Regions from separate parts of the Homo sapiens genome. Here region 1 is linked to region 2. Evidence: fine-mapped expression QTL. A gene starts in region 2. The other region holds a variant in brackets. All regions are shown on one strand. Distances are from middle to middle. Region 1 overlaps FAM193B (family with sequence similarity 193 member B). Region 2 holds the start of PDLIM7 (PDZ and LIM domain 7).

Region 1 (5,362 bases), 28 kb after region 2:
CACGTGCCACCATACCTGCCTTATTTTTCTATTTTTAGTAGAGACGGGGTTTCACCAACTTGGCCAGGCTGGTCTTGAACTCCTGATCTCAGGTGATCCACCCGCCTCGGCCTCCCAAAGTGCTAGGATGAGAAGCATGAGCCACCGCGCTTGGCCAAAAATACTAATTTTTAAAAAATTTGCATTATTTAGTAATGTATTGCTATTTTTTGTGTTTTGTTTTTTTTCCTGAATATTTTTGATTGCAGATATGGAGGGTGACTGTATGCCGTGTTTCTTTCACCCTAATCTTTTGTACTCACTGGCCCCCTTGGCATGAATACCTTTTCATCTTATCTGGCCAACTCATTCTTACTCTTCAGGTTTCAACTTGGTTACCACCTCTCCTGGGAAGGCCTCCTGGCCAGCCCCCACCCCTTCTATCCTCCCCAACTCTATGCCATTTATCAGTAGGCTGCATGTTCATGGCCAGACTCCTGGTCTAGACTGCTTCATTGACCTCAGCCCAGGCAAAGCAGAGAATGTGCAAGTGAAGACACAAAGCAAATAAAGCTGGAAAAAGCCCTGGTTCTTGGGGCCTGACATGCCTCCTCCTATCTCTTGCACCTTCCCAGATGTGCCATCCTGCCCAGTGGCTCCGTGGGTTTTCAGCAGGCAGGCTGGTGGGAGAGGGCCTGGGGGGGCGGTGAGCCTCCCCAAGGGGTCAGGGCCAAGGGAGCAGGCCTTTCTGAGGCTTGAGGCACAACACAGGGCTTGAGTGTGGGCAGGACCTGGAGTCCTCCACAAGTGGGAGAGCAGGCAGCCCACACCTACCTCTTAAAGTACTCCACCTCTCGGTCAGTCTCATCCATCTCCACCCCGTCCATGTCCTTGGGCAGGAACACATCGTCTAGGAAGACACAGCCAGGAGGGCTCAGTGCCCATGGCCAGGCCTTTGGGGTTATGCTCTGGGGGCAGCGCTGTCTACACACAAAGGCTGCCCCTCCACCCCGTGGACTGGCTGGGGTAGGGGGTCAGCCGCTCAGTTCCTGGTGCACTCACCCAAGGAGGAGGCTGGCTTCTCCTGCTTGTTGCGGCTCCGGCGGCTGCGGCCCTTGCCCTGGGGCAAGCTCTGTGGCCTTGCTGGGCCTGAGGGCTGCACAGACTCCTGCTCCTGAGGCCGTGCCTTGGCCTCGCCTGGCCAGTTTCGCCAGGAGCTGCCCTTCTCCTTCTCAGTTTTGGGACTGCCAGCCCAACCTGGTCCTGGCCGGCTCCCCCGGCTCCCCTCTCCAGCCTCAGCACAGCTGCCTACTTTGGGAAGCTCTAGGACCCTGCCTGGCTGCTTGGGGCCAGCGACCTGGCCCTTGGCACTGGGAACCTCTAGGCTGGCTGGGGGCCGGGGGGCTGGGCTTGCCTCGCTCTTCTTGGCCTGACTGCCCTGCCTCTTGCCCTTCTGTGGCTTCCCACCTGAGGACACAGGCTCAGGCAGCTCCTGCTTGCAACTGGGAACTTCCTTTGAGCTTGGCTCCTCGGAGCTGGGGTAGCCCGGCTTGGGTGTCTTGACCCAGATCACCCGGGATAGGTTGGGCACGGTGTTGAGTCTCCTCACGAGCCCGTTCTCGGGGACGATACCGGGAGGGGGCCCCCTCACCTCTGTCCATGGTGGGTGGGGGCCTCTCATTTCTGCCCATGGTGGGGCTGGCTCGCCTGGAGCTTGTAACGTGTGGTTCTGAGGGGAGCCCAAAGTCAAAGGGGACAGGTCAAGGTTGATGTCAGGCTGCTGCTCTGAGGAGCCACTGAGGTTTGAGGGGGGTAGACTCTGAGGCTCAGGCTCAGCAGCCCCCTCCTTAGAGAAGCCATTGCTGTCCATGCTGAGCTCACACACACTGAAGCTGGCACGGATGGAGTCTTTGACAGTGTTTTTGATCTCCTGCAGACGGCTGCTCAGGAAGCTGTTGACCCGATCCAGTTCCCGGTCGGGCCACTCCAAGAGCCTCTCCCTGGCAGGCCTTGGCTCCCGGCTTCCAGAAACACGATTTGCCTGCTTTAGAGCTTCTGCTGCCAACTGGGCCTTCTCCTTTTCCTGCCAAGGCAAGAGGCAGTTTTAGCAGGAGGCTGTCAACTGCCAGGCACAATGTGATACCTGACCCATCAGCCTGGGGCCCAGCTTTGCCACTAACTTGCTGGAAGCAAAGCCTTAAAATCCTAGCCTGCTTACCCACCCTGCAGGAGTGAGGGCAAACTGCAGCCAGACAGGTACATGTCCTGGGGGCAGGGGTAGTCACACCCACAGAGGGTAGGGTTTTTACAGCTTGTTCACCCAGAGCCTCAGTTTCAGTGGACTAATCTGCAAAATGGGGACAATAATTCCGGAGTAAAGCCAAAGTGGGGATGCATGTGAAGACCACTACTAGAGAGGCATTCTCTCCACCCCTACGGGTGGTGGGGAAAAAGCCATGCCATCACGGGGTCTTACAGGAGGCAGGTGTGGGGGTAGATGAGATTACTCTGGTTGG[G/A]AGGGCATGTGCCTTCCTGATGCTATGTCTGGGTGTTACCAAAGAGGGCGGTGTTCCCGTAGAGAGGCCACTTGCTGCACATTTGGTCTCAAGTAATCAAGGTCACACCTAGAGTGTGCCCAATGGCATACCATGGACAAACACACTGGCCTACACAGCAAGATGTGAGAGCTGCTCCTTTGCCCAGGTGAGGCCTGGAAGGCTCAGAGAGGCCAGGCCCTGCCAGTTGGCTTTGACAGATCTGGATCTAGGGAATCAAAATGAAAGTCTGTGGGATCTCAGTCACCCCAACCTCTCCATCCCACCTCAAGGCCAACGATGCCTTTAGAGGGAGACAGGCGGCAGATAAAAAACCCTCGGGAAGGAGGTTGCTGTGGTGCGCCTGGCGCCATTGACTCCCACTGCCTCCTGTACTTCCAGCTGATTTGGGAATGGAGGAAGAGAAACATGAAAGGGCAGCTGGTGAGAGAAACCAGGGCTTGCTACCACCTCGGAGTCAATGTACAGAGGGTGACCCTGCGTCCCAGCAGGCACTTATCTTTTGTGAACCCTGGCTCCACAATGGACTACAGTCAATTGTTCTGTGGGACCTTGGACAAATCACTTATTCTCTCTGAACCTTACTTTTCCTATTTGTAAATTAGGAAGAAGAGGCATCTCTACATTCCAGGGTCAGTATGAGGACAGCTGAGAGTCTGTGTGGGGTCCTTTCCCATGTGCGAAGGTGGGGCTGGGCTTCGTGGCCCTCAGGGAGCAGCTTGGTCTGCAGCAGCTGCAGCAGCATTTCTAGCTGTGAGTAGGGCTCAGAGGCCCTGGGTTGGACCAACGAGGACCAAGGGCCCTTCACCTCGCTCCCCCAGCACCACACAGATTTCACAGAAAAGTTTGGCTGCTAAAAAAAAAAAAGTTTGACAACTGCTGGTGTGGAGGGAATGATATGGAACCATATACACTCTGGAAGCCAGAGGAGAAAGCACAGAAACACACACTTTCTGCTCTGTACCGTCAGCACTTCCCATAGATGTCTCCTTTAATCCTCGCCACTGTCTTTGCTGCATCATGACCCTCTGCTTATAGGTGAGAAACCTCGACTTTGGAAAGAACAGGAGGAGGAGGTGGCTAGGAAGTGGCAGAGCCAGGACAATACACCCAGGCCTGATCTTCAGAAGTTCCTATGTTTCTCAATTCCATCTGACAACCATTTACCGACCATTGAGGCTGTGAGGCAGCAGGCCAGGCCCTGTGAGTTTAGCGTACGTGAGACATTCTCTGCCTCGCTGACTTCAGTCTGCTGAGGGAGACAACAGCAAACAGCCTGTTGAATTCAGAGTGACAGTGACAAGTGCTGCATGGAAGAAAGCACGGGGTGATCTGGGAATCTAGAGGAGATGCTCCCAACACAGACTGGTTCACCAGGGAGTGCTTCCTGGAGGTGGGAGGATCTGCACTGAGCACAGAATGGGGAGTGGAATCATCCCGGAGGCAGTGAGACAAGCATTTTCTAGAGAGAAGGAATAGCAAGTGGAAAGGCTGGAAATGGGAAAGCTCAGTATCTTCTGGGAATGCAAATCATTCAGAGGTATAGCTGTAGCCCAGATTTTTTGGGGGATGTGGGGGTTGGGTGGGGCAGGTGGGCAGGAAGGTCAGAAAGGAGAGGCTGAGAGATAAAGCTGGCAGGGGCTGATCGTGAAGGGCCCTGCAGGCCCTACAGTGTTTGTGCCCGAGGGCAATGTCCAGCCACTGATGGCTTTTAAGGTAGTGGCAGTAGGGTGGAGAGCGGTGGACTGGTCTGAGCTATCAGCGATGTGGCATGGATAGGGCTTTTGGTGCTGGGTAGGGAGACAGAATGAGAAAAGTCAGAGAAACATTGATGGCCACTATGGCTGCCACAGCAGCCCCACTGCCTGAGAACTCACATGTGCCAGGCACTCTGCCTAACCTTTCCATGCATCGCTCCATTTCATCCCTGCAACAATCTACGACTTAGGTTCTGTTATTCTCATTTTATGGATGAAGAAACTGAGGCTTAGAGGTTAAGTGATTTGCCCAATGTCATACAGCAAGTGTGGCAGAGCCAAGTGTCAAACTGAGATCCAGTTCCAGGCATGCTATTCCAGGTCACTATGATGCACTCCCCAGGCGGGCGCCCAGTGCTCCGGCTCAGGCAACAGGGTGGGAGGCGGTGCCATTGACTAGACAGACAACAGAGAAGGGAAAGCAGGCCTGTTCGGAGAAAGACAACAAGCTGAACTTTGGATGTGCAGAGTCTGAGATACCTGTGGGACGTCCACAAGGAGGTGTCCAGTAGCAGTTGGAGACGTGGATGTACAGGGTGGGGAGGAAACACTATTGGGCTGTTTCTAGATGGCATCTCTTTCCCAGGGAGATGTCCCCATGAAGGAGGGTCAAGTGGAGGACGAGGAGCTCACAAAGGAGACAGAAAGGACGTCAGAGGGGCAGGCAAGACATCTGGAGAACATGGCACTCCCCTTGCCCTTTCCTGCCTGGCTGAGGACAGAGGAGCCCAAAGACAATGTGTGAAAAGGACAAACACAAATGCCAGATATTCTCTAGTGGACTAACACGATAGGAACAGCAGAGGAGGATGGATTTGGCAACAAAAAAGTCACCGGTGACTCTGGAGAGGGTGTGGGTAGAAAACCGCCTGCAATGAGCTAATGGGTGGAAGGGAAGACAGTGAATGCAGACATCATTTTTCAAGAAGTGTGGCTGTGATGAGAGGAAAGAGGCTGGGGAGGGGTTGAGAGAGAGGTAACAGGCTCAAGGAGCAGTTTGCTTCCAAAAAAGAGAATGGTGGACACAATGAAATGTGGACGGGAACAGCATGGAGGAGAGGCTAAGCTAGA
Region 2 (5,362 bases):
CCTAACCCCCACGCCCAGCTCCTACAGACAGACTCCAGCTTGAGCCCCTCCTCAGGCCACGACCCTCTGGGCCCCTCCAGGCTGGGCTTGCCTTGGGCTTCCTGACAACAGCTGCCTGCCCACCCGGCGCCTGGGTGGGTCTCTTGGGGCAGGCGGATATAGGGGCAGGAAGTCCCCACCCCCTCCTGACCCCCAGGCCAGTCAGAGATGCCAGCCGACAGGCTGGCCTCACCCACTCTGGGCAGGCAATTTGTTGTGTCTCACAACTGGACCATATAGCTGGAGCTGCAGCCTGGTGACCAGCTGAGAGGCCCACCAGTGGGGTTCAGGGGGCCAGGCCTAGGCCAGCCCTTTTCAGCTCTGCAGACCGCAGCCACTGTTGGCCATCCCAGCGTGGGGCTGCATTCTTGGGCTTATAAGGCAATCCCCCTGCTACAGGGAGGAGCCAGCCTCCAGCTCCACCCACACCAGGGCAGGCTCTTGGAAGCTGAAGTTAAGCCCCTAGAATGGAGCCCTGTCCTACACTTCTGCTTGGGGTCAAAGGCCACCACATCCTGAATGGGAACAGTGGATGTGGGTCCTTACATAGGCTGGGGAGAGACCCCTTCTACCCACAAAAAATGTACGCCATGCTGTGCCTCAATTCCAATCCCTGCTTCACCATGGACTCGATGAGCGAGCCCCGCCACCTCTCCATGAGTTCTTCTCTCATCTGGAAAAACGGGATGAGGATTGCTATTCCCTGGGCGGCAGTGAGGCTGAAGTGAAATCCTATAGTCACAGTGTCCTGCCTGGGGCCTGGCTCCAAGCATTGCCACCTCAAGTTTAGATACCTCCTGAAATGTTAGGCTCCCATCCTGCACAATGAGCCTCCCTCCAGCCCTCAGAGGTGGCCACAGGAGCTTGGGAGAACAGCATCGGGTACAGTGCAGGGCTGGAGAAGCCTGGGTGCTCCCTCCCAGTATCCACCTCATTGGGAGTCCTTGTGGCAGGCAGGTACCACTACATCTCCGGACCTAGACATCTCCTGGCCTGCTGGCCCCTGACCAGCTCCTGTTAGGACTCCCCCCATCACCCTCTGGAGACCTAAGCACCGAAAGACCGCTGGGGGAGCCCCCTCCCCAAACCTAGGCTCACCCGGGAAATGGAGAGGGGCACATTGAAGTCCTTGCCCCCTTGCAGCCGGAAGCCCCAAGGTGCTGGCCCCTCCAGCACTACTTTGAAGGAATCCATGATGCCGGCTCCTGAGAGGAGAGAAGAGAAGGTGAGTGGCCAGCATGGTGGGCGGGCAGGCAGGCAGGCCGGGCCAGCTCAGGATACCAGCCTTGGACAGGGGCCAGGCAGGCACGGGCAGCCCCTGAGCACGCCCAAGCCATAGGAGGCAGGTATTTTGTCAGGCTGGCCTGGGCTGCTGGCTGGCGGACCTCACTTTGGAAAGACAGGAGCAGCCCCCCTCCCCTTGGGACTGGAACGGTGAGGGGTGCCTGAATCCAGGCTTGAGGTTCTTTGCAACCAGGGGTGGGCCGAGGGACTAAACTGGCGCGGCCTCCCCCCAAGCCAGCCTGGAGCCTCGGGCGGCCGGGTGAGTCAGGGGCCGGCTCTCCTCTCCCCCGCCCCCAGGTCCCGGCAGGCAGGCCGCGGCTGGAGCCTGCTCGGACTATATAAGGCGTGTAAGCTGACACTGTGCGGAGAGCCAGCGGAGGGAGCACACGGGGGCTTGGGACGCGAGGGGGGGGGGAGGGGAGGGGAGGGGAGGGGAGGGGAGGGAGGCGGCTGCAGCGGATCCTCCTAGCCATTCCGGGACCAGTCGAGGCTGCTGGGAGCCAGGGCGGGACCCCTGGGTGCTGAAGAAGGGGAAGGCGGGAGTGGGGTGCGGCCCCTGTGGAGACAGATGGGGGCTGGGACCCTCAAGCATAGCTTGGAGGGGGATCCTTCCCCGAGCCCAGTGGGGGGTGGTGCCTCCCACACAGAACTGCTCCCACACCGACGTGACTCAGTTTCCCCTTAGTCCCCCGCCCGGGCCCCATGCATTAGACTGGCCCCGGCCGCAGGAAGCGGCGCAGGCGCCAATCGGCCCCGCCGCAGCCGGCTTAGCGGCAGGAAGGCGGGGGCGGGGGCGGAGGCAGGGGCCAGGGCCAGCGGGAGGAAGCACAGCCTGGACCACGACCCCCAGTGCCCTTTGTGGTCCTCAGCAGGCCCCGGGCGCCCGCCTGGTGCAGCCCAAGACGCCCCGCGCGGTCGTCGATACCTGCTTGGCCCGGCCAGGGCGCTGCTCTGCGTCGGGCTCCAGGGAGCCTCGTTGGGATCGGCCGCCAGTGTTCTGACCCCGCCCCCACAGCCACCCTCCACTTTGAGCGCGCGGACGGGGGCGGGGCACCAGGCCACGCCCTCGTCGCGACCACGCCCACTAGACTTTCTCCGCTGGTGGAAAGCCCCACCCAGCTCTTCCGTCCTGCCCAATCACCAAGTCCCGTCGGGCTTAGAGCTGAGAGGCCTCGCCGACCCGGGCCCTGCAACGGGGCGGAGTCGGGAGGGGGCCGGGGCTGCGGGTCGCCTCCTTAGGGAAGCGCTGCCTCGCCCAGTCCCTCGCACCGCCCGCTGGCGGAGGGAGAGGAAAGCGGACCTTCAAACCAGACCGACCTGGGACATAGTAGTCTCTGAACCTTAGTTTGCTACTCCGAAAAATGGGACGATCATACTCGCCTCGCAGGGCTGCCGCGAGTGTCGGTATCGTAGGCGCAACCCTCGGGGACTGCAGAATCTGTAAATCAGAGGGGCTGGGGGAGACAAGTTGAGGGGGACAGGGGCGTTTAAAGCTAGAGTTGCGCAACGCTCTGCCGAAGGCAGGAAAACAGGGCAGGAGCGGACGCCGGATGTCCCTGCAACCCCGAGCCGACCCGCGCACCGTCGGAAGCGCCGCGTCCCGCTCCACCTTGGCCAGAGCGGACTGCGCCGCCTGGGAGGCGTCCTCAGAGTCCCGGCCCCGCGTTCAGCCCAGGCACTAGGGCCGGCGGCACGGACACTGAGCACATGCGGGTGTCGGGGTGAGGGAAGGGGCGTCCACCCTCCACTCGCTTGGTGGTCCCGGCCCATCACCTCCTCCTAGGACAGAGTCGCTGCAGTTCTCCCCTCTCCATCCACAGTCATCACACCCACCCTGTTCTGCACAAACCGCCGTGAGAGTTCTCGTCGTTAAAGACCTTCTCTTGACCCCACATCCCTCTCCAGCTACTACCCTTTAATTCTCCTCTCGAGAGTAAAATTCCTCCAGGGAGTTGTCTGTTTATCGCGTCTCCACTTGCTTTCCTTCAGTTATCTCTTGAAGCCATGCCAGGCGGGCTCTTGTCCGCACCCGTCCCCTGAGATCTCTCTTCTCAAGGTCCCCTGTGGCCTGGAGGCCATGGGGCCATGGAATCCGTGGTGGTTAAGTTTCATCCTGCCCTGCCTAGGGGCAGCACTGGTCCAGGTTGATCCTTTTCCGCGAAACACCCTTTTTCCCTGGCTTCACAGCTTCCCCCTGCCCCACTGGCCCCTCCTTCCCATCCTCCTCTGCCTCTGGCCTTGGCCATCTGATGTCGCCTCTCTTTATGCTCACCCCCTGAGACCCCGTACTGTCCTGTGGCTTTCAACACCACCTATATGCAAAGGCATCCCATGTTTCATGGCCAGCCTGACCTCTCCCCAGGAACTCTAACTCCATTATCCAAAACCCTGCCTAGATGTTTACTAGATCAGGGGTCCCCAACTCCCCGTTTGTGGCCTGTTAGGAACTGGGCTGCACAGCAGAAGGTGAGCAGCGGCAAGCCAGAGAAGCTGAGTGCAGCGGCAGCATTAGACTCCCATAGGAGCGTGAACCCTATTGTGAACTGTGCATGCGAGGGATCTAGGTTGCTCATTCCTTATGAGAATCTAATGATAAATGGGCCGGGTGCAGTGGTTCACGCCTGTAACCCCAGCACTTTGGGAGGTTGAGGCGGGGGAGGATCACTTGAGGTCAGGAGTTCGAGACCATCCTGGCCAATATGGTGAAACCCCGTCTCTACTAAAAATACAAAAATTAGCTGGGCGTGGTGGCGCATATGCCTATAATCCCAGCTACTTGAGAGGCTGAGGCAGGAGAATGACTTGAACCTGGGCAGCAGAGGTTGTAGTGAGCCAAGATGGCTCCACTGCACTCCAGTGTGGGTGACAGAGCGAGACTCTATCTCAAAAAAAAAAAAAAAAAAAGAGTCTAATGATAAATGTACTGCACTCGAACCACCCTGAAACCATCCCCACCCCACCCCCAGTCTGTGGAAAAATTGTCTTCCATGAAAGCGGTCCCTTCTGCCAAAAAGGTTGGGGAACCACTGTACTAGGTATCTCAGACCATCATGGCCCAATTCAAACTTGTGCCTTTCCCACCTTCCTAACTCCTTCCTCACTTCAAGAAGTGCCACCAACATTTATCCAACTGGTTCAGCAGAAACGATGAAGTTATCCTTTCTCTTCTGTCCTCCCCCAGATTCTGCAAATTCCACCTTCAACATGTTCACATCTAACCGCTGCTGCCACCATTGTCCCAGCCACTGCCATTTTGTGCCTGCGCCCCTGTAACGGTCTCCTAACGGGCATCCCTGCTTTCACCCTTGCCCCTTCCAGAGTCTTCACGAAGCAGCCAAAGTGATATTTTTAAAGCCAGAATCACAGCACCATGTCACTCTCAGCTTTTAGCATTCCAGTGGGCTCATATTGCACTCAAAATAAAACTGAAGTCCTTAAGACCTACAGAATATGAATAAACTGGGTCTGACTCCTACCACTCGCTCCCTCCACTCCAGCCACCCTGACCTCCTCACTCACATTTCCTCCAGCAGGCCAAGCATATTTCTGCCTCAGGGCCTCTCCACTTGCCAGTTCCCCTGCTTGAAACACTTTTCTTTTTTTTTCTTTTTTCTTTTCTTTTTTTTTTTTGAGACGGAGTCTCGCTCTGTCATCCAGGCTGGAGTGCAGTGGTGTGATCTCGGCTTGCTGCAACCTCTGCCTCCCACGTTCAAGTGATTCTCCTGCCTCAACCTCCCGAGTAGCTGGGACTACAGGCATGAACCACCATGCCCGGATAATTTTTATATGTTTAGTAGAGATGGGGTTTCTCCATGTTGGTCAGGCTGCTCTCAAACTCCTGACCTCCAGCGATCCACCTGCCTTGGCCTCCCAAAGTGCTGGGATTACAGGCGTGAGCCACCATGCCCGGTGCCCGGCCCTTGAAACACTTCTCCAGATATCTCAGCAACAGGTTTCCAACTTTATTTAGGTCTCTGCTCAGATGTGGCCTCCTCCCAGGGCCTTTCCTGATCACAGCTGAAACAGCAATCCCTGGATG

Evidence for each region. PIP is the estimated chance that this variant, and not a neighbour inherited with it, causes the effect.
Region 1: its variant is the best candidate, but not a certain one, in a credible set for the expression of PDLIM7 in monocytes (BLUEPRINT, PIP 0.51).

The regions. Positions count from the first base shown.
Region 1 is chr5:177,523,144-177,528,505 of GRCh38, forward strand. FAM193B (family with sequence similarity 193 member B) reads right to left here. Exons shown (of 9, transcript NM_001190946.3): 6 at 1,042-2,062; 7 at 814-889. Among named protein-coding and RNA genes, the nearest start is that of DDX41, 8.9 kb to the left of the region's middle. The variant G/A (reference allele first, on the strand shown) is at 2,496.
Region 2 is chr5:177,495,280-177,500,641 of GRCh38, forward strand. It overlaps PDLIM7 (PDZ and LIM domain 7), which reads right to left and starts at 2,325. Exons shown (of 13, transcript NM_005451.5): 1 at 2,249-2,325; 2 at 1,138-1,244. The coding sequence starts at 1,233. RefSeq lists enhancers at 977-1,718, 2,931-2,980, 3,199-3,938 and silencers at 1,521-1,600, 2,011-2,720.